4 linked regions of the Homo sapiens genome follow. The protein of the gene in region 1 interacts with the protein of each later gene in a biochemical or structural test. Each region holds a gene or a part of one and is shown in the gene's direction. Other genes may lie near its edges. The genes, in order: FYN, CSF1R, BCL3 and PLCG2.

The links.
Region 2: the proteins of FYN (region 1) and CSF1R form a complex in vitro, tested with the Homo sapiens proteins (one study listed by BioGRID).
Region 3: the proteins of FYN (region 1) and BCL3 form a complex in vitro, tested with the Homo sapiens proteins (one study listed by BioGRID).
Region 4: the proteins of FYN (region 1) and PLCG2 form a complex in vitro, tested with the Homo sapiens proteins (one study listed by BioGRID).

The regions. Positions count from the first base shown.
Region 1 is NC_000006.12:111,863,433-111,870,469, reverse strand, and holds part of FYN (tyrosine-protein kinase Fyn), read left to right. Parts: intron 1-7,037. UniProt on the Homo sapiens protein: Non-receptor tyrosine-protein kinase that plays a role in many biological processes including regulation of cell growth and survival, cell adhesion, integrin-mediated signaling, cytoskeletal remodeling, cell motility, immune response and axon guidance.
Region 2 is NC_000005.10:150,052,787-150,055,583, reverse strand, and holds the end of CSF1R (macrophage colony-stimulating factor 1 receptor isoform a precursor), read left to right. Parts: intron 1-247; coding exon 248-347; intron 348-1,153; coding exon 1,154-1,262; intron 1,263-1,359; coding exon 1,360-1,515; 3' UTR 1,516-2,289; downstream 2,290-2,797. UniProt on the Homo sapiens protein: Tyrosine-protein kinase that acts as a cell-surface receptor for CSF1 and IL34 and plays an essential role in the regulation of survival, proliferation and differentiation of hematopoietic precursor cells, especially mononuclear phagocytes, such as macrophages and monocytes.
Region 3 is NC_000019.10:44,751,692-44,758,728, forward strand, and holds part of BCL3 (B-cell lymphoma 3 protein), read left to right. Parts: intron 1-4,540; coding exon 4,541-4,649; intron 4,650-5,325; coding exon 5,326-5,530; intron 5,531-5,635; coding exon 5,636-5,724; intron 5,725-5,954; coding exon 5,955-6,032; intron 6,033-6,554; coding exon 6,555-6,722; coding exon of another isoform or gene 6,723-6,854; exon of another isoform or gene 6,855-7,030; intron 7,031-7,032; coding exon 7,033-7,037. UniProt on the Homo sapiens protein: Contributes to the regulation of transcriptional activation of NF-kappa-B target genes. In the cytoplasm, inhibits the nuclear translocation of the NF-kappa-B p50 subunit.
Region 4 is NC_000016.10:81,936,271-81,943,307, forward strand, and holds part of PLCG2 (1-phosphatidylinositol 4,5-bisphosphate phosphodiesterase gamma-2), read left to right. Parts: coding exon 1-108; intron 109-1,487; coding exon 1,488-1,633; intron 1,634-2,530; coding exon 2,531-2,645; intron 2,646-3,621; coding exon 3,622-3,789; intron 3,790-7,037. UniProt on the Homo sapiens protein: The production of the second messenger molecules diacylglycerol (DAG) and inositol 1,4,5-trisphosphate (IP3) is mediated by activated phosphatidylinositol-specific phospholipase C enzymes. It is a crucial enzyme in transmembrane signaling.

The DNA.
Region 1 (7,037 bases):
AATTAGGCTAATGTTAGCAGGTGTAACAAATAGGCCTGCAAATATATAATGGCTCAAAAGCAATAGACGTTTATTCTTGCTCATTTAATAGTCAAAAATTCATGTTTCTGGTCGGTAGGTGGCTTTCCTCCATGCAGTGACTCTGGGTCCCACACCCCTATCTTGTAGCTCCACCATCCCATAGCTTATCATCGTAACCTGTTTCAGTTTACAGAAGGGGCAACAGAGAGTAGACGGGGCACACCCACTTTTAAAATACCTTAGCCTGGAAGTGCCACCATCACTTCCTCTCACATTCTTTACTTGAGGGCTAGTTATATGGCCACATTTAATTGCAAGGGAGCCTGGGAAATGTAGTTTAGCCATGTGCTCAGAAAAAAGATACAGAATAAATGTATTTTTATTGAACAGCTTTGTCAAACACTGCCACTTATCAAGGCACATTCACTGCCCTCAAGAAACTTATAGGCTAATGGGAATTAAATAGAAACCTAGAGCGGACACCCGTCATTGCTTTTCTTTTGATTTTATAAGTTTAGATCTTTTCATCCTAAGCATGTTTCAAAAATCTTACTTTTTGTCATGTTTCAAATTTTATGTTTCAAATGTTGCCAATTCCTACTCAATAATCCCATGTGATACAATCATCTGATGCTTCCTGTGTTGACTTTGATGTGGTTCTTTTACTCCAAAAGCACCTTTCTTGGCTTCATTTTTCATCTGGTCATTCTGTAGACTCCCAAAGTTGCTAGGAGAGTCCTTAGAAATCACACTCCTTCTGGATGTTGCAGCTCACGCCTGTAATCCCAGCACTTTGGGAGGCTGAGGTGGGTGGATCACTTTAGCCCAAGAGTTTGTTATCAGCCTGGGCAACATAGTGAGACCTCGTCTCCACGAAAAATCTTTTAAAAACTATCCAGGCATGGTAGCATGCATCTGTGGTCCCAGCTACTCAAGAGGCTGAGGTGGGAGGATCACTTGAGCCTGGGAGGTAGAGACTGCAGTGAGCTGAGGTCATACCACTGTACTCTAGCCTGGGCTCCAGAGTGAGACCCTATCTCAAAAAGAAAAACAGAAATCACAGTCCCACTCCCTCTTAATTGGAAGAGGAAATTAATTAGCCTGAGAGGTGAAACTCCTTGCCCCAAGGCCTTGCAGCTTCTTAACGGAAGGGCAGGAGGCTCAGCCAGCCAGCTCTTCAGGCCCACATGGGTCTCCTCTGTCACTCAGCTGCCCTCTTTGTCTGTGAGTCTTGCATATTCCACGGAGGTTAAGTGAGCTTCCAAATCTCCATGAGCAGGGTTCTAGTGTTCTGGGTAGTCCCTGTTCTCCACAGGCTTCCAAATTGTTGGAGCAATTCCATTCATACCAGCCATCATAATTGTTAATGCACTTTTTTTTGCCATGAATACTTCATTATATTCATCTGTTCTGCAGACATTAGCCTAGTATGTTACTTTGTGCAAGGCACTGGGGAGATGAGGTCCTGGAAATGAATACTTCTGCTGTCCTTGCTTTTCAGAAGTTCACGGTCTACTAGAAGAGATAAAAATAATTAATAATTGTTAACATTTGTTGAGCATTTACTATATGCCAAGCACTGTTTAAGCTCCGATCTTAACAATAATAATATGAAGTGGTTTCACTTATAATCTCCGTTTTACAGATGGGAAATTGAAGCAAACTTTAGTAGCTTGTTAAGTAACTAATTCAAGATCATACAGCTACTAAGTGGTAGAGTCAGGATTCAGGTCCAATTAGTTTGGTTCCAAAGCCTTTGCCCTTAGCCACTAGGTAATATTCAAAATACTACATATAATGATGATATTAAAATACGTTATGTGCCATAAGGGAGGGTGACTGAAATGCTTTAGAAACTAAGACTTTTGGTTGATGAGAAATATAATTTTATAGCCAAATAGAAATACAATATTCATCCCTACCCTCCTTCCATTCAGACACTTATCTACTACTTACCTGGGAAATACAAAATTAAATTAAACAATGGTAAAGCAAGGCATGTCGATACTGGAAATAATTTTACTCTGTGTGATTATTTAAAGCTGGGTCTTTCTGTGGTACACAATTAGGTCTGTATAAGTTTATGAATTGTCTACATACTTACTCATTTAACAGCATTCATTCATTGCGTATTCTATTTGCCAGACAATTAATTCGATGGTTCAAGGCAAAAGAGATGTGATCCTGTCCCGAAGGAACTTACTTGCTAGTTTTGCAGAGCTATAAAGGAGTCTCTGACCAATGTTAGAAATGCTGGGATTTTAGGGGTCCATGTAGGATGGCAGAGAGTGTGCAGAATGGAGCATGAACCTGGAAAAGAGGTGGGCAAGTGGGATAGCCAAGCAGAGAAGGCTGGAAGAGGAGGGGTCTGAAGGCAAGATGAGTAGAGATGGCTAGGTGAGTGTTGTGGGAAGCTCCCTGTCCCAGAAAGAACAGCCCAGAGGGCGAATGCACAGACCTTTTGGGGAACTGCAGTTAGTTCAGGGCTGTTTGGAGTGGTACAGAGATGGACAAAGGGAAATGACAGAGCTGAAGGAGAAACTGAGAAAGATTCTTGTACGTACTTTATCCTGAGTGCCATTTAAGAGTTGTAAGTGGAGATGTGGCTTTGATGTGATTGTATTTTTATAAAGATCTGGCCACAGTATGGGCCTTTGACCGAGGGCAGGCAGAACTAATGCAGGGAAGGTAGTTATGGAAACTTAAATGAGTAGTAGATGAGGGTCTAAATGGAAGGAAAGGAGGTGCAGATGGAGCAAAAAAGAATTAGAGAGCAGTAGACAGGGTGTAGGGGTAGGTAGAAAAGAATTTCTCTGGGAAATTAGGTAGAGACAAGCAGTCCAATAAGGAAAGCAGGGGGCAGGTATCTAAGCGATGACTTTATCTTAAACACTTTAGACTTCCAGGTGTAGTAGCTCATAGGCAGGTAAATAGAGAGGTCTGGAGTGAGGGAAGAGGACTAGGTCTTTTTTTTTTTTTTTTTTTTTTTTCCCGAGACGGAGTTTCGCTCTTGTTGCCCAGGCTAGAGTGCAATGGCGTGATCTCAGCTCACTGCAACCTCCACCTCCCAGGTTCAAGCGATTCTCCTGCCTCAGCCTCCCGAGTAGCTGGGATTACAGGCACCCAACGCCACACCCGGCTAATTATTGGGGTTTCGCCACGTTGGCCAGGCTGGTCTCGAACTTCTGATTGCAGGGGATCTACCTACCTCAGCTTCCCAAAGTGCTGAGATAATAGGCATGAGCCACTGCTCCCAGCCAGGACTAGGTCTTGAATATAAATTCGTTAGCAAACAAATTACAAAAATTGAAGCCATGGATGTGGGTGAGGTCACCCAGGGAGAATGTGTGGAGTAGAAAGAGCAGAAAGGGCAGAGAGCAAGCCCAGGAACAGAGGAGGAGTCAGGCCCAGAATGGGAGAGGAGCCTGCGGAGTACTAGACCAGCTTCAGAGTTGAGCAACATAAAGAACAAAAAATGCAGTTGGATTTAGCACTGAAGATATCTGAACCTGCCCAAAGCAGCATCAGGAGAACTAGAGGGGGAGAAGTCTAGAAATCTGTTGCTCCCCAGCCAGGGTAAAAACACATATCAAAGCCTGTAGAACATACAACCATGAAGGACTCTTGCGGTTTTTCATGGGCACAGGCCATGGAATCTTAGAGATCATGTAGTCAACATGTTCATTTTACTCGTGAGGAAAAATGAAGTTAAATGAAGAGGTTAAGCAACTTGTCCAAGATGGCAAAGTCACCAGGTTTCACACCTCTCAGCCCAGGTGTGTGGTGTGGTTAAGAGCATGGGGTTGGGGCCGGGCACGGGGGCTCACGCCTGTAATCCCAGCACTTTGGGAAGCCAAGGCAGGTGGATCACCTGAGGTCAGGAGTTCAAGACCAGCCTGGCCAACACGGCGAAACCTTGTCTCTACTAAAAATACAAAAATTAGCCCGGTGTGGTGGCACAGGCCTGTAATCCCAGCTACTTGGGAGCCTGAGGCAGGCGAATCGCTTGAGCCTGGGAGGCAGAGGTTGCAGTGAGCTGAGATTGTGCCACTGCATTCCATCCTGGGCGAGAGAGTGAGGCTCTGTCTCAAAACAAAAGAAAACAAAACAAAAGCATGAGGTTGGGGTAGGGTCCGGGTTTGACCCTTTCCAGCTGTGTGGGCTGGGCCAAGTTACCTGGTCTCTCTGTGACTCCTTTTCTTCATCTTTAAATGGAGATAGTAGTTCCTGCCTCAGAGGGTTGCTGTGAGGATTCAGTGAGTTAATACATGTCAAATATTCAGAACAGTGTCCTACACATAGGAAAAGCTATGTGTTTGCTGCTGTTGTTAATCCATATGTATGTGTGTATGTGTATATATACACATATGACATACATGCTTTAGGGAAGGGATGATGACAATATATTGTGTGTATGTAAGGAAACTTTGAATATTTTAGAAAGAGATTTGGGTGATTGTCGGTTCTGAATCAAAAATTGTTAGAAAAGTTGGGAAATTTACTTACATGGTATGATTGAAAACAGCATTTTTAGTAAGAAATGCAGCACCTTCATTCTTGAGAACGGAAAACATGAAAGCATTCTGACGTTAACCCTGTAAAAGGGTTTCTTTTAGTCAGATAACCAGAATTTTAACCTATTTACAATGGAAATCCCTCGAGTTTGACTTCAGAATGTCATTGTGACTTTTCTAAAGGTAGAATGAACTATAAAGTAAGAAAAAACTATGGGTTATGACTTTCACACATTTGGCTCCTATGAAAAAAGAGTGATTTGTGTTATTTAGAGGACTATAATAATTTTTTTAGTGTTTCTAGTTGAGCAAATCTAATTTTTAGCTACTAAAACACATGAGAAGCCTGAATGGTATTATCCAAATGGACTTGGGTGACATGCAATATAGACAACTTAGGAATAAGTGACACTGTGGACTTGATTAGAACGCAGTAATCCTGGAAGAATATAAATTGAATTGGATTTATGGTCTAATAAAAACGTGGGAGGAAAAGATAATGCTTACTGACTCATGAAACTTTAACAATGTTTGTAAGACTCCGAGTTGTTGTAATATTTGGTTGAGAGCGCTTTCCCATTTGTCTCAGCCTGCTTCCAGAACAGCCTGCTGTGCACCTCCGTCTGGAAGTGAAGCCTGACTTGGGTCTCCTTCTTGGGTATACTTAGGAAGCAGAGATCATCACATACTCTGCCCTTGTAAACCCATGACCTCGAGCAGCACTTGGTTGGTTTAGGCAAATATGTATTGAGTACCTATTAACTGTAAGAGTTTGGGGGAGAAAAAAGTACCATGGGAAAGTCCTAGCTCATTGCTTATTTGCACTCAGAAAGCTTTTTTAGAGGACTACTTGTTTCTGGCCTTGTATTCTCCTTTCTGTGATACTGCAAAAAAGTAGAGAGCATACCACAGCTACCTACTCCTCCCTGAATACACCATAGAAATAATAGCACCTGCCATTTTATTGAACTCGGAGGCATGTGTTAGGTGCTTACATACAGTCATGTACTTAATCATAGCAACTCTAGGAGGCATGTATTATTATACCCATTAGTCAAATGGGGAGACTGAAGCTCAGAGAGGCAAATGGCTCATGGTCACACAGCTAATAACTAGTGAAGCCAGGTCTGTGTGACTGCTAAACTCTTTCCTGCTTTTGCTCCAGAGCTGTGGTTCCTCATTCCCTGCCTCCTTGCCTTTGCTTTGCAGTTACTTCTGTGTCCTGTGTTGCAGGATGCAGAGGCACCTTTACCCACCGTGGAAGTCTCACCCTTTCTGATGACTCCCCTCAAAACCTACTGCCTCTTGAGAAGCCCTCCCATCTCTCTTACCTCTGGGCTCCCAGAGCACCTGATTACCACCTCATCATCATCCTCATCATAGCCTGATTCGTAAGGCTGAGGGAACCAGCTGGGTAGGACAGTGGGGCAGGCACTGGCCTTTCCCACCGACTTGTGAGCTCTTTGGAAGTCAGGGACTCTATTTTATGATTGATTTGTCAACATAACACCCAGCACAATTCTAGGAGGTACTACCATTATTATCCCATTTAAAAGATGGAAAAACTGAGTCACAGAGGCTAAGTGATTTAGTCAGCGTCACAGAGTAAGTGACAGAGCTGGGATCTGAACACAGCAGTCTGGCTCCAACATCTATGTTCTTCACACTAAATTTGCGCCATCTCTTTAATGAGATTGTAAACTGTGAGGGTGGAGGTGGTGCCCAGCAGCTCCCAGCCTAGTATCTCACAGACTCTGCACAGTAAACATCAGCCCTTTTGTTCTCCTGTCCACCCCAGCAGAGTGACAAACAGAATATATTGAACCAGGTCTTATCGCATAATAAGAAAAGAGCACAAATATGCTGAAGATCTCATAGAATGCATATCCCCAGGCCTCATTTGGATTCAGTGGGTATGGGCCAGGCAGGGCTGAACGCTTCTCATCTTTTCTGTATCTGGGAACAACAGTGAGAAGGGAAGAGTCAGCAGGCAGCTCTGGAAGACAAGGAAGGAAGCAAACATAGGGAGTCCCAACTAGAGTAGTGGGAGCAGGCGGAGAAGTGGTAGAAACCATCAGTCAGCAAGAGTCAGAGAGTGCCGAAGCTTGAGAGGGGCCCGGGATCATAAATCCGCACAGAAAGACCTCTTAACTTGTAATTTAAAGGTTTCTAAGTACCTGTGCCTTTTGAATATGCTGGTGGGATTTTATCTGATGAAGTCAAACACTTTCATTTTCTTCAGAGCTTCCATCTTTGAGGTATCCAAAAATAGTAGGCTTTTCATGGAGTTGTATAAGGATTCCATCTGCTTTATATTGAAAAGTAGGGCTTTAATGGAAAATTAAAAATGAGCCAGATCTCCTTTCCCACAACAAAGCCCAGGGCACTTTTCCCAATCCTTTCTTCTTTTAATCCCCAGAAAGTTACTGAATCTGTATTTCTGTGAAATCCTGCCCAATTTAAATTCTACTGAAAAGGCAAATAAACACCAACAACTTCATT
Region 2 (2,797 bases), on another chromosome or scaffold:
CTTTGGTCTGATTCCAAAGCCTGTGCAAGAATGTTTGGTGTGATAAGGCCTGGATAGAGGCTCACACCTTCCTAAAGCCTAAGCCTGCCACACACTGGCTGGCACACAGGAAGCACCGGGTAAGAGTAGCTGCTGTTGCAGTGTTGTCAAGTGGGACCCTTTAAACCCAGTCTAAGATGTGTGTGGGTGTGCGGGAATGGGGAGAAGACAATGGGCATGGCCTCTTACCTGATCTTGGCCTTTGCAGGGCTGAATCCCTACCCTGGCATCCTGGTGAACAGCAAGTTCTATAAACTGGTGAAGGATGGATACCAAATGGCCCAGCCTGCATTTGCCCCAAAGAATATGTAAGCGAAGGGATCCCAGGGAGGGAAAAGGACACCCCAGGCTTTCGCTGGAAAGGGATGGAAGGCCGTGTGGCCCTGATCTTTCCCTGTCCAAAATGTTCCAGGGTCAGACTTTATCTCTCCCATAGTGGACACAACAAGCCCCTTTTGAGTTCAAGCTATGGGGGATGTTCTCAGAGAAGCAGCTGTTCACTAGGGCTGGTCCTAACCGACCACTTTTCCTTTTTTTTTTTTTTTTTTTTTGAGACAGCATCTTGCTCTGTAGCCCGGGCTGGAGCGCAGTGATGTGTGCAATCATAGCTCACTGCAGCCTCAATCTTCAGGGCTCAAGCAATCCTTTGGCCTCAGCCTCCCAAACAGCTGGGACTACAGGTGTGCACCACCAAGCCCAGCTATTTTTAAAAAATTTTTTAGTAGAGATGGGATCTCACTATGTTGTCCAGGCTGGTCTGGAACTCCTGGCCTTATGCAATCCTCCTGCATCAACCTCCCAAAGTGTTGGGATTACAGGAATGAGCCACTGCACCTGTCCCTAAACAGACTTTTAAGAGATCGTTATTACAGTTACCCTGAGGATACCAAAATGGCCTCATCTGTCAGAATGAGGGTGATGAGAGTACCCTTCTGCAAGGGTTACTGTGAGGATTAAATGGTAAAGCATGCCAAGGACTTGGCATAGGTTTTATACTAAACTTACTTTGACTGGGTTTGGGGACCTCTGCTGGGTAGGTCTCTCTAGGGGTGTGTGTTAATGGCCCCTGGACCCTAGGGAGCTGCCCATGGGCATCCTCTGTCCTATCTCCCAGATACAGCATCATGCAGGCCTGCTGGGCCTTGGAGCCCACCCACAGACCCACCTTCCAGCAGATCTGCTCCTTCCTTCAGGAGCAGGCCCAAGAGGACAGGAGAGAGCGGGTGAGTGGGGTGAGGCTTGGGGTGGGTGGCCGGTAAAGCACGTTGGGCTGGGCCTGATGGATCTGGACTGACAGTTTCTGGTCCCTCCCACCCTCAGGACTATACCAATCTGCCGAGCAGCAGCAGAAGCGGTGGCAGCGGCAGCAGCAGCAGTGAGCTGGAGGAGGAGAGCTCTAGTGAGCACCTGACCTGCTGCGAGCAAGGGGATATCGCCCAGCCCTTGCTGCAGCCCAACAACTATCAGTTCTGCTGAGGAGTTGACGACAGGGAGTACCACTCTCCCCTCCCACAAACTTCAACTCCTCCATGGATGGGGCGACACGGGGAGAACATACAAACTCTGCCTTCGGTCATTTCACTCAACAGCTCGGCCCAGCTCTGAAACTTGGGAAGGTGAGGGATTCAGGGGAGGTCAGAGGATCCCACTTCCTGAGCATGGGCCATCACTGCCAGTCAGGGGCTGGGGGCTGAGCCCTCACCCCCCCCTCCCCTACTGTTCTCATGGTGTTGGCCTCGTGTTTGCTATGCCAACTAGTAGAACCTTCTTTCCTAATCCCCTTATCTTCATGGAAATGGACTGACTTTATGCCTATGAAGTCCCCAGGAGCTACACTGATACTGAGAAAACCAGGCTCTTTGGGGCTAGACAGACTGGCAGAGAGTGAGATCTCCCTCTCTGAGAGGAGCAGCAGATGCTCACAGACCACACTCAGCTCAGGCCCCTTGGAGCAGGATGGCTCCTCTAAGAATCTCACAGGACCTCTTAGTCTCTGCCCTATACGCCGCCTTCACTCCACAGCCTCACCCCTCCCACCCCCATACTGGTACTGCTGTAATGAGCCAAGTGGCAGCTAAAAGTTGGGGGTGTTCTGCCCAGTCCCGTCATTCTGGGCTAGAAGGCAGGGGACCTTGGCATGTGGCTGGCCACACCAAGCAGGAAGCACAAACTCCCCCAAGCTGACTCATCCTAACTAACAGTCACGCCGTGGGATGTCTCTGTCCACATTAAACTAACAGCATTAATGCAGTCAGCCTCTGGTTCTTTGTGCCACATGAGTACCTGCAAATTCCCTGGAACGTCTTTCTTTCCTTCCCTCCTTCACATGAAGTGACGAGCTCACAGCTGTGGAGCTTGACCACACTGTGCCCCATACGATGTGCACGGAATTGACTCCTGCTACACCAAAACCAGATAATTTAATAAACTTTATTCTTGTTGGGGGAAGAGGGAGGGAAAAAAAGCCACCTACTCCACTCAATAAATTAACACATGGCCAATTCCCAGGCCCTAAACAAACCTTGGGCACTTGAGCCAGTCCTGCTGTTTCCTTATGGCCCAGTCTGCTTCCCCTTCATAGAAGGGAGTTTTTCCTACTGCTGCTAGGTTATGTCATGACCAGGGACCACATCCCCTCTGTGGAGAGGGTCCCAGGCCCAGAGAGGATATTGGCTGCAGCAGCAGTGGCCAGGGAAAGGAGGAAGGGGATGCTCTTCCTCAAAGCTTGGGGTGGAGAGGACAGTGCTGGAAGAGAGCT
Region 3 (7,037 bases), on another chromosome or scaffold:
CCCAAGTTCAAGTGAGTCTCATGCCACAGCCTCCCGAGTAGCTGAGACTACAGGTGCCCACTGCCAAGCCTGGCTAATTTTTGTATTTTTTGGTAGAGACAGGGTTTCACCATGTTGGCCAGGTTGGTCTCAAACTCCTGACCTCAAGTGATCCACTCGCCTTGGCCTCCCAAAGTGCTGGGATTACAGGCATGAGCCCCAAGCCCACCCCTAGAACACTATTTTTGGAACGGTGGTCTTTAGATATTTTGTCACAACCTAAAAACAAGAAAGACAGTTCATTGATTAACTTACTATATGAATTATACATGTAAAACTATCACTGGACCTGGCATAAATGTTGAGTAAGTGTTTGTTAATATTACTATTATTTTATCTCAAACCCAGCACACACACACACACACACACACACACACACAAACTTGAAATTAAAATTGCACAAAATGAAACAATACTCGCCCTTACTATGTGGGTTCTACTGTGACATTTTCTTTTTTTCTTTTTTTCTTTTTCTTTTTTTTTTTTCTGAGACAGGGTCTCGATCTGTCACCCAGGCTGGAGTGCAGTGGTGCAATCATAGCTCACTGCAGCCTTGATCTCTTGGGCTCAAATGATCCTCCCACCTCAGCCTCCTGAGTAGCTGGGACCACAGACGCTACCCCCACACCTGGCTAATTTTTGTATTTTTTTTTTGTAGAAACACAGCAGTCTTGCTATGTTGCCCAGACTGGTCTCAAACTCCTGGGCTTAAGTGATCCTCCCACCTCAGCCTCCCAAAGTGCTGAGATTACAGATGTGAGCCACCGAGCCCAGCTTACAGCTTTACTTTGCCATTTTCTATTCTAGTCGACTTCATTGTTTCATGGTCACAGCCCACTACATTAATTTGAAGATCCCCTAAATTGATTTCACAACCCCCATGGTTTATCACCTGCAGTCTGAAGAACATGTTTGTGAGGCTGCTGAGAAGTCCTGCACGGGAGGGTTTGGTCTGTGCCTAGCACATAGTAAGCACTCACTGCAATTGATCATCATGATTCTTATTATTCTATTGACCTGGGTTGGAATCTCAGCGTGGCCACGTTCTACTCCCTCTGTGCCTCAGTTTCCCTCTCTGTAAAAACAGGAACCATCGCGTGTGAGGGTCTCTGGGAGGAAGAAATGACATGATTTATACAAAGCACTTCTGTGAGAATTAGTTTGGGGCCTGGAAACCACAGGTAGAGATGAACAGGCCTGTTTCTGCAGAGAAGTAGCAGAGGGCTGCTCCGCCACTGGCCCACTGAGTGATTTCATGTCCCTGAGTCTCAGTTTCCCTATTTGGAAACTGGGTCTCATAATAGCACCTATCACAATTAGGATTCAGTGAGATCTTGTACACATGTATTAATACAGTGCACAGAACAGGGCTGGGCAAACAGTAAGTGCTCAATGCATGGAAATGGGTAATGTTTGAGCAGAGCTCCCAGGGTGGTTGCAGGCCATCTCCAGAGCCCTAGCAGGAGAAAGTGGCCTAGATTATAAAGAGCTAATAAAACCTAGTTCCCTCCCCTTCTGGGTACCTCTGGGGGGTCATCTATGAAATGGGCTTAATCAGACAGTCTCTGCCCCCAGTGGTGAGCTGTCCATGCTGTTGAAAAGCAGGGTGCTTGCCAGAGGCCACCCGGCCCACCAGTCTCCAGCCCCAGGCCCTCCCCACACCCTCCCTCTCCGACTCTCCCCCAAGGCAAACACTTCTGCCTCAGCTGCCTGCTGGGGGAAATCCCTTCCCGCAGAACTTGACCGCAACCCAGCTGCTCTGCCTCCCCCACGTCAGCACCCGTCACTCACTCGCAGCCTCCCCCCTCCTGGCGCTTCCTCCAACCTTAACCCCTTCCGCTGGGGCTGAGACTTTACCGGAACGGGCAGCGGCCCGGCCCCAGCCTGCGCCACCGGCTCCTCTTCACACCCGCGGGGGAGGGCAGTGGGGGCGAGGAGGGCGGGGGACGCTAAGTCTGGGTCCCCGCAGAAGCCAAAAGGTTGGGAGGCTGGGCTTCCATCTCCTCACAGGCGGGTACGAGCCTTGGGGCATTTGGACCCCCAAGAGGTTAGGGACTGGGCAGCCAGAAACCTGGGGAGGGGGCAGGAAGGCGGGGGCGGGGGGGGGGGGTGATGTTCTGATTCTCAGAAGGCAGAAGTTGGGGAACTGTATTCCTTAATCTCCGAGGGGATGAGGAGCAGCTTGGCAGCTTGGGGACCTGGCACTCAGAGGGGCTTTACGGGCAGGACCAGATACAGAAATTTGCAGAGTCCCTTGTTCAAAACTTAAGAATTTCACGACAGCGGCAGCAGGACGTTGGGCTGGTGAAACTGGTCACGCCAAGGGGCCTGAAAGTCTGTGTTCCCAAAGGGCCAGGGTTTGAGGCGCTGTATTTCTGGGTCTCTGAGGGGACAAGGACTGGCAAGGTAGTTTGGGATCCTGGAGCTCTGAAGGACGGGGGAAGTCCTTATTCTTAAAGAAGAGTTAGGGCTATTTCTGGCTCCCAAGAGATGTTGGGGGTGGATGCCGGGATAAGGAGGACTTGCAGCCAGCTGGAGCCTGAGCTCTGCGGGGTGGAGTTCCAGAGGGTCCCCCAGGCGGGAGGACTCGGGATTATGCGCCCCCCCTACACACACACACCTCAAGGGAGCTAGGTCTTCTTGGGCTGGGCACTCCCTTCCCCCGCCCCATTCGAGGATGGAAGTTGGGGTGCCAGGGGTGGCCAGGGTAGATCCCCGGCGGGACAGGCTTCCCTCCCCCGGGAGCAGGAAGCAGAGCCCCGCCCAGCAGACCTGTTACTGGAAGTCCGAGGGCTGGGTCGCCCCTCCCGTCCCCACTTCCTCCAGCCCCGCCCCACCCCCTGCGGCCCGCGCGTTTATGGGAACTCAGGCCTGGACGGTTTCTCTGAAATCATTCGCTGCGTCTGCCCTCACTTAACCCTGGCCGCCCCGAGAGGGACCCAGGCCAGGCGTCCTGGGAGATGCAGAGAAGGGGGGACCCTTCCCAGGGACCCCGGCCCCTCCCTCAACATTTTATTTTTAAATTTGGCTTTCACGGATTAGGAGTCAGGTTCAGCGATTCACCTGCGTGATCTCACCCTGGCATGTGGACGCTGTACTTTACATAAGAGAAAACTGAGGCTCCGAAAGGCCCCCATGGCTTTGCCCTAGCACGCGGCTACGCTAGGAGGGGTTGTGGCCCAATTTGCAACTCTGGCCCCGGGATTTCTGCACTCCATCAGAACCACCTGGGAGGCTAGTTTAAACTGGATTCTAGAGACACATTCCACAAGAGAAACGGGTGCTGGTGAGAAAGGAATTACTTAGTAAACTTTAAATAAAGATCCTGCCACCCACTGTGTACACGCAGTCCTCCTTGGGTCCTCCACTCTGTCCCCCACCCCATGCAAACAGCACAGGCGTGCACAAGCACGCACGCATGCACACACACCAGTCTCTGAATAGCTGTTCTAGGTTGGGGTCTCTGGAAACTGAGCAGGAAGTTTATTGGAAATGCTCTCCATCAACACCTGTGGGATGAAGGAAGCCCATCTGGGCAGAGGGAGAAGTTGAGCTGCTGTGTCGCCTCCACACGGCCTCAGCTGTCCCACAGGGAATATTGAAGCTGGAATGGCCTTCAGCATTGGGGTCAGGAGGCTAGGCCTTCTATGCTGGCATTAACCAGTGACTGGATGCCATTGAAGGGCAGCTGCCCTTGATTCACATGGGGCGTGACCTTGGACAAGCAGCTCTCTTGAGTTGAGGGTAATTCCCAAATGGTCTGAAAGCTGACAATCTTCCCAGAAGCTGAGGGAGTGAGTCCTTCAGTCTAGAAGGGGGTTCTGGACTGTACCGCCTCCAGAACAATGGCCCCATCCCAGTTTGTCCTCACCTCCCTTTTAGTCAAAACTTTTGTTCCAGACTGGGCGTGGTGGCTCACGCCTGTAATCCCAGCACTTTGGGAGGCTGAGGCTGAGGCAGGAGGATCACTTGAACCCAGCAGTTAGAGACCAGCCTGGCCAACATGGTGAAACCATGTCTCTACTAAAAATACAAAAGTTAGCTGGGCGCGATGGCACACATCTGTAATCCCAGCTACTCAGGAGGCTGAGGTTGGATGATCGCTTGAACCTGGGAGGCAGAGATTGCAGTGAGCACAAGATAGCACCACTGCACTCCAGCCTGGGCGATAGAACAACACTCCGTCTCAAACAAATAAAATAAAATAAAATAAAAGGGTCCCTCTGGCTGTTGTGTGGGGGACAGACAGTAGAGCATAGGTGGAAGCAGAGAAGCCATGAGGATGGAACTGTACTAGACCAGCAGGGAGCCAGTGGTGGCTAAAGCAGGATGGAGGGAGCGGGTGGTAAATCAGGATGGAGGGAGTGGGTGGGGAGAAGTGTTTGAATACTGGGGACATTTCCAAAGTATTCAACACATTGGAGTTAGCATTGCCAACAGCATGAGGGTGAGAGGTGAACAACCCCTAATGCCTGTGATTCCTTCACTCCCCCACCCCCAGGCCTCTCCATATTGCTGTGGTGCAGGGTAACCTGCCAGCTGTGCACCGGCTGGTCAACCTCTTCCAGCAGGGGGGCCGGGAGCTCGACATCTACAACAACCTACGGCAGGTGAGGCTCGGTCTGAGGGAGGAGGGCTGGGGCCTGGACTCCTGGGTCTGACAGAGGAGGGGCTGGGGGCCTGAACTCCTGGGTCTGAGGGAGGGGGGCTGGGGCCTGGACCCCTGGGTCTGAGGGAGGAGGGACTGGTGCCTGGACTCCTGGGTCTGATGGAGGAGGGCTGCGGGCCTGGGATCCGGGGTCTGATGGAGGAGGGCTGGGTCCTGGGCTCCTGAGTCTGAGGGAGGAGGGCTGGGGATCTGGACTCCTGGGTCTGAGGGAGGAGGGCTGGGGGTCTGGACTCCTGGGTCTGAGGGAGGAGGGCTGGGGTCTGGACTCTAAGTAGCGAGGTGCTCCAGGCTCCTGGTTCCTGGGGAAGAAGGGCTCTGGGGCCTCGGACTGGTTGTTCCTGAGAGGGAGGGGGCCTAAAGACCTCCTAGTGAGGAGGGAGGGGGCTGGGGACCCAGAATTCAGGTACTAGGGAAAGAGGAGGTTGGAGGCCCAGTCTTCTGGGTCCTGGGGAAGGAGGAGCATGGGGCCCGGACTCTTGAATCTGAGACAGGAGGTGTCTCAGGTTTCTGTTCCTGGGGAAGACTGCAGGATGAGGAATAAGGGTTCAGAAAACCTGGGGGAGGCAGGACTAGAGAGCAGGGCTGGACACAGGTCCCTCACAGTCACTGTTCCCCAGACACCGCTCCACCTGGCTGTGATCACCACATTACCGTCTGTGGTCCGGCTCCTGGTGACAGCTGGTGCCAGCCCCATGGCGCTGGACCGCCATGGCCAGACGGCCGCTCACCTGGCGTGCGAGCACCGCAGCCCGACCTGCCTGCGAGCCCTGCTGGACAGCGCAGCTCCGGGCACGTTGGACCTGGAGGCCCGCAATTATGACGGTAAGCATTTACCGCGGGGCACCGCTGGGCTGTCCAGCGGACCTGGAGTCCATCAGCGGCCGCAAAGCCCGGGCCTAGGTTTCACCGAGCCCTCCTCTCCCTCAGGGCTCACCGCCCTGCACGTGGCAGTGAACACCGAGTGCCAAGAAACCGTGCAGCTCTTGCTAGAGCGCGGTGCCGACATCGACGCAGTGGTGAGCGTGCACTAGGAGCTGGGAGGGAGCGGGGCCTTAGCAGGGGCGGGGTCTTGGCGGGGGCGGGGCCAGTGTGGGGCTGGCGTGGGAGAGCACCCGGGTGGGGTGGGGCTTGGAGTATCAGACCCAAGAGAGAGGCTGGACCCCGCGAATGGGATGTGGACGGGATGCGGGTCGCCGGCTGCTGGAGCAGAGCTTGGAGAAACTAAGACCTTCCCTCCCCGCCGCAGGACATTAAGAGCGGCCGCTCCCCGCTCATCCACGCCGTGGAAAACAACAGCCTTAGCATGGTGCAGCTGCTGCTGCAGGTGCGTACAGCCCCCCTGAGCCTCGCGCCCACCCTATCCTCTGACCCCAACCCGGCTCTGGCCTCAGCCCCTAGCTCTGACCCCGCCTTCCACTTCTGGCTCCGGCTCCTGCTCCGCGTCCAGCTCTGATCCTTTAAGGCCTAGTTTTCTCGACCCTCGGGCTCCACGCCCCTGGCTACGAACTTGTCCCATTCCTCCTCTGCCACCTCAACGGCCTAGGCCCCGCCCTGCGATGGCCTGGCTGACCCCGCCTTCCAGCTAGGCCCTGTCCACGCATTGTCCTTCCCCCCTCCAGCTCCCCCGACTCCTTGGGGCGCGGGCCTCGGTGTCCAGCTCCGGTTAATTCATCGCCGCCAACGCAGTCCCGCTTGGCCTGCCCTTGGCTCTCGCTCCTACCTTCCTGTGACCCCACCCCGATCCGGTGCCGCCCCACGTGCCGGCCACCCACCCGGGCCTCCAGCCTCTGTTCCCTTACCCCGGGTGGCCCGCGCGCCCTCCTGACCCGGCCCTCCCGTCCCGCAGCACGGCGCCAACGTGAACGCGCAAATGTACTCCGGCAGCTCCGCCCTGCACTCAGCGTCCGGCCGCGGGCTCCTCCCGCTGGTGCGCACGCTGGTCCGCAGCGGCGCTGACAGCAGCCTCAAGAACTGCCACAACGACACGCCGCTCATGGTGGCGCGCAGCCGCAGGGTGAGCCGGGGCAGCTGTGGACATGCCCCTTGCACACGTGTGTCCGCGGGCTGGTTGCAGGCGAGTGTGCCAGAGCGCAGAGGAGTGAGGGTGTCTGTGCCGTTGCGTGGAGGGGAGTGGGTGAGCCTCTGAAAGCGCGGGTGTGAGTTCCAGAAATGAGGAGAGACTGGCACCAAGAAAAAAAGTGCCTTGCCCATCTTTTCATACTGAGAAGTGGAGAGGCCACCACCTGGATCCAGTGAGCTAGGAGGGATGGGAGAGAGGACTGTGAGGCATGGGTGGCTCTATGGTCACGCCCATCTTCCTACAGGTCAT
Region 4 (7,037 bases), on another chromosome or scaffold:
TGACCCGCGTCTACCCAAAGGGACAAAGAGTTGACTCTTCAAACTACGACCCCTTCCGCCTCTGGCTGTGCGGTTCTCAGATGGTGGCACTCAATTTCCAGACGGCAGGTAAAGGCCGACTGAAGGTAGTCCCGTCCCTGCAAGGTGGCGGTTGCAGTCACTCCAGGCCGAGTCACCTTGGGTCAGCGATACCATGTGGTGTCCAAGAATGAGTGATTTGTCCGAGGGACTGCACGGTTCAGCAGAGTAATGGTTAGTATGAGGTCCAGCAGCTGAATGGAGGGATGAGAGGACCGAAGGCTGCTTGGCTTACGCAGGCTTCGTGATTGTAAGTAAGTGACAGAGGCTGAGTTAGTCTGGCTTAGAAAAAGAAAATGCATTAGTTCATGTAATTAAAGCATCTTTGGAGTTCTCTTCTCCAGGCCTGTTGCTGTGTGAGGGCTTTCTGCTCAGACTTTCTTCCAGAGACATTTACATGCTGGCATAACTAACATACACAAACTTCTGGACACAAAGTGATCGCATAAATCACGGGGCTTTGTGCTTTTGTTGTTGTTATTTAAGACCTCTTTCGAGGGATCTATTCATCAGTAGCCTCCTTTACATTCTTTTTATAGCCACATCGGATTCCACAGAATGGAACAATCATTTATTTAATAAGTCCCCGTGGAGGCACATGTAGGTATTCCCCATTATTTGCTGTCATAGACAGCACTGCCTTCTGTACCCTGACGTGAGCGCCATTCCACAGATGTAGGAATATGTCTATGGGACAGAATTCTCAGAAAGGCAGGGTGGGTCAAACAGCGCTTGCATTTTGATCAACTTTGCCCTGAGGAAAACCACTGAAGACGTGCCTGAGCTAAGCCACACTGCCAAACTGCCCTCCATAGAGATCGTGGGCGGGGATGCAAATAGGTGGAGGTTGGAGTACGCTCTTTTGGTATGACTTCGCTGAGTTTTGTTGAACTTTTTGCCGTTTGCACAACTGAGAGGTGAAAACTGATACATCGTCGTCCATTAGAGCTTCTTCTTGTAAGGGACATTAACCAGTTTTTCCCTCATTTAGGGAGCAGTGGCATTTTCTTTTCTGGGAACTATTTGTGCTTCTTACCTGATGTATCTACTGCAGTAGGTATTTATAGCATAGATGTATCAGAACTAAGAGGTTAAAAATTTATATTCACATATTTGTCATTTGAATTAAAATTGCCTATGCAATTTATTGCTACATAGACACTTTTAGCAAGTTTGAATCTTTTCTTTTATGATTCGGGATTTGGTGACATACTTGGAAAGGTGTTCCCCAGTCTGGGAGTTTGCTGTCTAGAAACCCTATATTTTCTTTGAGTGAGATACCTATTTGAACAGCTGCCTCACATTAATTTGGGGAAAAGGTGAAATTCATTCCCCACCTAGAAACTCCTGGCCTAGGGGGCCAGCGTGCTCATGCCTGACTTACAGCAGGCGTTCACTTTCCTTCCCAGATAAGTACATGCAGATGAATCACGCATTGTTTTCTCTCAATGGGCGCACGGGCTACGTTCTGCAGCCTGAGAGCATGAGGACAGAGAAATATGACCCGATGCCACCCGAGTCCCAGAGGAAGATCCTGATGACGCTGACAGTCAAGGTAAAGCCAGCCCTCCCTTCCTGCCAGGGGAGCCAGCCGCCCTCCCTGGGGGCTGGGCCGATGCTGTCTTGAGAGCAGGGAACCCATGTCTAGGGAGGCTGGTTGTCTTGTTTAAACGATCCCCATTCAGGCAGTGTTTGAGGATCTTTCTTTCTTACAGTACACTCCGGGGTCGTTCTGGGAGAAGAGGGAAGAGAGGGGAAACCTCCTCAAACCCACTTCCCCTTGTCCTCTGTGGGGGTGAGGTATGACCCTATCTTTCTGGGGTCCTGGTGAGGTCAGCCTCTGGCCGGAAAGAGAAAGAAAACATGGGAAACAGCCATTTGGTCTTAATGGAGAAGTTTTTTCCCTTACTTTGTCCAATTCCAGGGCTTTTTAAAATTCATCTGACTTTCAGAGAAAGTGTTGTTGCTTTGTAAGAATTTTTGAAAAGTAGAGAAATGAATTGCATTTCTCCTAAGGTTAAGGGCGGGCGGGTGGTAGGGGGAAGAAGCATACGTAAACACAGGCCTTTAAATAAACAGCAGTTATAAAAAGAATGCCACACTGTTCCTCAGCCTTTCCTAGGGGTGTGGAAATCCAGTGATTAAGCTCTGCCTTGATCAGAGGCACCTGCTTGGGCATGGATGTGTGCATTCATGAGCTCAGGTGAGTTTTACCTGTTGAGTCAGGTGGCATATGGGGCCGAGACCCAGGCTGATGCTGAGGAACTGTGGGATCTACCACAGTCCACCTTCATCCACTGCAGAAGGTTGCTCCGGCTTTTCCAGTGAATCTAGGAAAATTAGGGCTGGCATTGAACTCATCCAGTGTCACTCTAGAACCCAGCTGCAATCCACGCTAGGCTGCCTGTTCAGGACCCCAGGGGGGTTCCAATGCTTCCCTTTGGTGTCCCAGGTTCTCGGTGCTCGCCATCTCCCCAAACTTGGACGAAGTATTGCCTGTCCCTTTGTAGAAGTGGAGATCTGTGGAGCCGAGTATGACAACAACAAGTTCAAGACGACGGTTGTGAGTAAGTCAGTCACCTTGGCCCCTCTGCTTTTAAACGTCCGGCCAGTGAATCCTTTGTGGGAGTGCTCTTCGTGGGGGATTTTGCAATGCTCTTTAGTTGTCCCAGGGTTTTCTTTCCTCCCTCTTGCCCACATGGTTCAGCTTGAGGAGGGGATACATACAAAGGGCCACTTTCTGAAATCCTTAGACTTTCCCCAGTGCTGTTTGCCTGCCTGTAACTCAAGTCCGGAATCGTAGGTGAGGCCCTGACACTAGGTTGGTCCTCTCTGTGCAACAGCCCAATCTGATTAATCTCCTGAGTCAAAGGCCAAGAGGCAGAGACACAGAGAGAGGGGGTGAACCTACGTGGCTGACCTGACCCAGAGGATCAGCCTAACCTGGGAGATCTTAGCCCCTAGAGGGCAGGAGGGACAAGAGGAATGCTTGCTCTTCCAGGAAAAGCCAGGAGGGAACCGTGATTGGTGGGCCTTCTAAAGCACAGGATCCTTGCCCCTGGTAAAAAGTAGCCCAATGAACAACTCAGATGCTGACCAAATAAACTGGCATTTATGGAGAGTGGCAGGATTGCTGCTTGCCTGCTCTGTGAGGCTGGGCTCTCCCCTGCCAGCTGTAGAACCCCCTGCTGGTGGATGTGGCTCCCAGGCTCTCCTCCCCTTTTGTCTTTTCCAAAATCCACCTTCCTGCTCTGCAAACAAACACCTCCCCCGTTCCCTTGTCCCTGATCCTGGGGCGGGGAGATGGGAGGTGGTCTCCTTCCTCTGCTCACCAAGGGACCAGCCTGCAACAGCAGCTTCCAGGATTGCTCAAGGTGGGGTGGGGGAGTGAAGATAATTATTCAGATTTTCTTAGATCTTGGCATAGATGCATATTTATTTACATGGTTGCTAAGGGGATTCACAGCTGAAGGATGCGGAGATTGTCTTACCAGAAGGGGGCAGCTCCAATGTGGCCTCTCATGAGCTTTGATCTCCTTCCAGATGATAATGGCCTCAGCCCTATCTGGGCTCCAACACAGGAGAAGGTGACATTTGAAATTTATGACCCAAACCTGGCATTTCTGCGCTTTGTGGTTTATGAAGAAGATATGTTCAGCGATCCCAACTTTCTTGCTCATGCCACTTACCCCATTAAAGCAGTCAAATCAGGTAAGAGGCATTTTAATTAAGATGTTCGATTTGGGCTGGCGTTGTACTTTGGTTTGGCTGCTGGCTTCAAAAAGAATGAAAAATGATTTTTCCTGGTTTGGATGGAATCACTGTAAAACCGATTGGGTGGCTTGGAGAGCAGGTGTACAGCCTGTCGTGTAGCACACAGGTGGGAGGAAGTGGGTGACAGGGGAGGCTATGCCCCTCAAAGTGGGATGTTTACAAGCAAAACTGGATTGTTAGTGGATCCTCAACCTGGCACTGCAGTTTGATTTCATTTTGAAATATTACATGCGGTTTGCTTCTCCCTAGCTAGGGCTAAGTCTGGTTTGATCTCCCCCTCCTGCTCTCTGGCTGGCAGTGTGAGAGGGTGGCAAGGGAGAGACCTTTGGCATCTTGGGGGGGGAGTAACAATCTCGAGGGTCCAACTCCCCAAACCCTTCAGAATTCACCTTCTTCTTCTATAAAATTGGGTGGGTTAATTTACTTCTTTGAGTTGTTACAGTTTTCTTCCCTGCTGAAGAAAACACAAGATCCCTTCATGGTATAAGAAGGGTCATTTTGTATTTTTCTGCAACCAAGCCAAGCTGGGTCATACGACCAGCTCTTAAGAACCCTGCTGAATCCCAGATGACTGAGCCCTTCCTACACAGCTGAGATAGACACTTCCAGGTGAGGGGATTTGGGACCCTGCTGCTTCTAGAGCCAGTCATTTACAAAAACAAAAAAAACTGGCTCTCCTTAGCTTCTATATAGTTTCTCTAGTTTACTTTCCCACTGGATCTTTCCCACTGGATTTTAGGTATAATATTTGACAAATAGGCCCTTGCTGGATGTTGAATTTTCCTTCTTCCTCTTCCTTTAGTATTTCTGATGCATGGTGCATGAGATATGAGATCATAGATTCTTCTGGATTCCTCAAGAGGTCACTGTTCCCTTGTTTTCTGAGGATCATTTTTCAAGAGAAAGATGACTGTCATTTTAGTTACTTACATAAAAAAATACAGTCTTTTGATATTGTTTGGAAACGTGGGGCTCAATGAAGAGCTGAATTGGATCTTTTTTGTTTTCAGACATTCCCTCAACTTCCACCTTTTTTTGTATAATATCATAAACCTGACCATTTCTGCTACTGGGCAGGAGCCCAGTTTCTGAGCAGCAGGCATGCTAGAAAATCCAGGTGCTGGCCGGGCACGGTGGCTCACTCCTGTAATCATAATCCCAGCTACTTGGAAGGCTGAGGTTGCACCACTGCACTCCAGCCTGGGTGACAGAGCAAGACTCAGAAGAAAGTGCAGGTTCCTGGACCCACCACAGGGTGATGAGTCAGCCCAGGGTGGGGCCAAGGAATCTGCATCTTTAGGCAGCTCCCCAGATGGTGCTTGGATGGCACTTTGACAGAACCAAACTATGTCAAGGCTGCCTATCTTACCATTGAGGAAATGAATTCCTTAGCAAGTTACTAGATGAAACAAGACTTTGGGAAAATGTTTAAAGTTTCTGATTTTTTTTTTTTTTTGTACTCTAGAAATGTTCATTTTCATGAACATTGCTACTCTAGCAATAATAATGAGTATTCATTTGTAAGAGGCCTGATATTTGGCAACCCTTCTGGGTTAACTCACCCACACTGTAAACTCCCCCTTTTTTTTTTTTGAGATGGAGTCTTGCTCTGTCGCTCAGGCTGGAGTGCAGTGGGTGATCTCGGCTCACTGTAACCTCTGCCTCAGCCTCCTCAGTAGCTGGGACTACAGGTGTACACTACCACATCTGGCTAATTTTTGTATTTTTAGTAGAGACGGGGTTTTGCCATGTTGGTCTGAAAAAAAGTGATGGGATTAAAGGAGTGAACCACTGTGCCTGGCCTATAAACTACTTTAAACCCGGCACTGATCAGGGCTGTGATTCCTTAATTTGCTTCTTTTAGATTAGTCTAATAAGGCTTAGGAATGACACCAATTCTTCTGGTGCAGGAAGTGTAGCTTTTGGTACACCTTTACGTTCCTAGCCTTGACGCTGTAACAGATTTCTTTTTATGGTAACTGCCTGCCAGTTCCTCTACTGAACTCATCCAGCAGAGAGGGGCAGCTGTGCTGAAACCCCTTGGTTACCCCGACGTCCTCTTGAAGGATGAGGGCCTTGAGCCTCATAACCCCTCCCAGTGCCTTGCAGAGATGTCAGAGTTGATGATAAAACCTCGTTACCTTAATGGGCATCAAAGTGTGTCAATTCATCTGCAGAATGCAATGACTTAGCTTGGAGATTTGGAAAAAACAAAGGTCAAAACCTCAAGGGAGATTAAAAATGTGACCTTCTCCTCCCCCGACTGTGAGATACTCTCAGCAGGGACCTTTCCTCACTTCTTTCTAGCTCCTAGCAGTGCCTGGCACATCCATATTCATGGGAGGAATGAAATAGAATGAACAGGAGGCATTGAGGGTCTTCCATACTGAAAAAATAAACTTCACCCATTGTCATTAGAGATGCACTGAAGCTTTTAAACCAGTTGGAGCGCAGGAAGGAAAGCAGCAGCCTTTATTGTGTTAGGTACCTTAAACTCTTTCTCTTTTAATCCTCACAGTAATCCTGTGAAAGGGGTTTTATCTTTGGTTTTAAAATTCTGAGCACTTTGAGGCCGAGAGACTATGACTTAACTTGCTCAAGGTCACACACCTGTAGGACCAGAGCTGAGATTCAAACCCAGGAATGTCTAATTAATTTCGAACCCCGTGTTCCTCCTCTGCAGGCTGCCCTCTCACTGGGTGCTCAAAGCCAGATGCATTGATCTTACTTTAAAAGGTGTCTGTATTTCCCTTTCCCCAGTGAAATGACTAGAAACAAGAAGAAGAAAAACAATTATTTTTTTTTTTTTTATACAAGGAGGGCTGCCCAGTGCATAAAAATGGGACTTGGGCAGCGAGAGAAGGTACATAGAGCTGGAGACAGCTGGTCATGAGGGCAGAGCTCATGTCTCCGATTTAAGAGGCACACGCCTAGTGTCAGATAGTACTGTCCAGCCTGGAACCATGCTATTGGAGTGTAGGGGCTACCTGATAGCCTCCCGGAATGCCATGGAGCAAACAGTCATTCCAGTTCATTCTAACAGTCAATCAGCAGCTAGACTGTATTAGTCCGTTCTCACACTGCTATAAAGACATACCTGAGACTGGGTAATTTATAAAGAAAAGAGGTTTGATTGGCTCACAGTTCTGCAGGCTGTACAGGCTTTTGTTTCTGGGGAGGCCTCA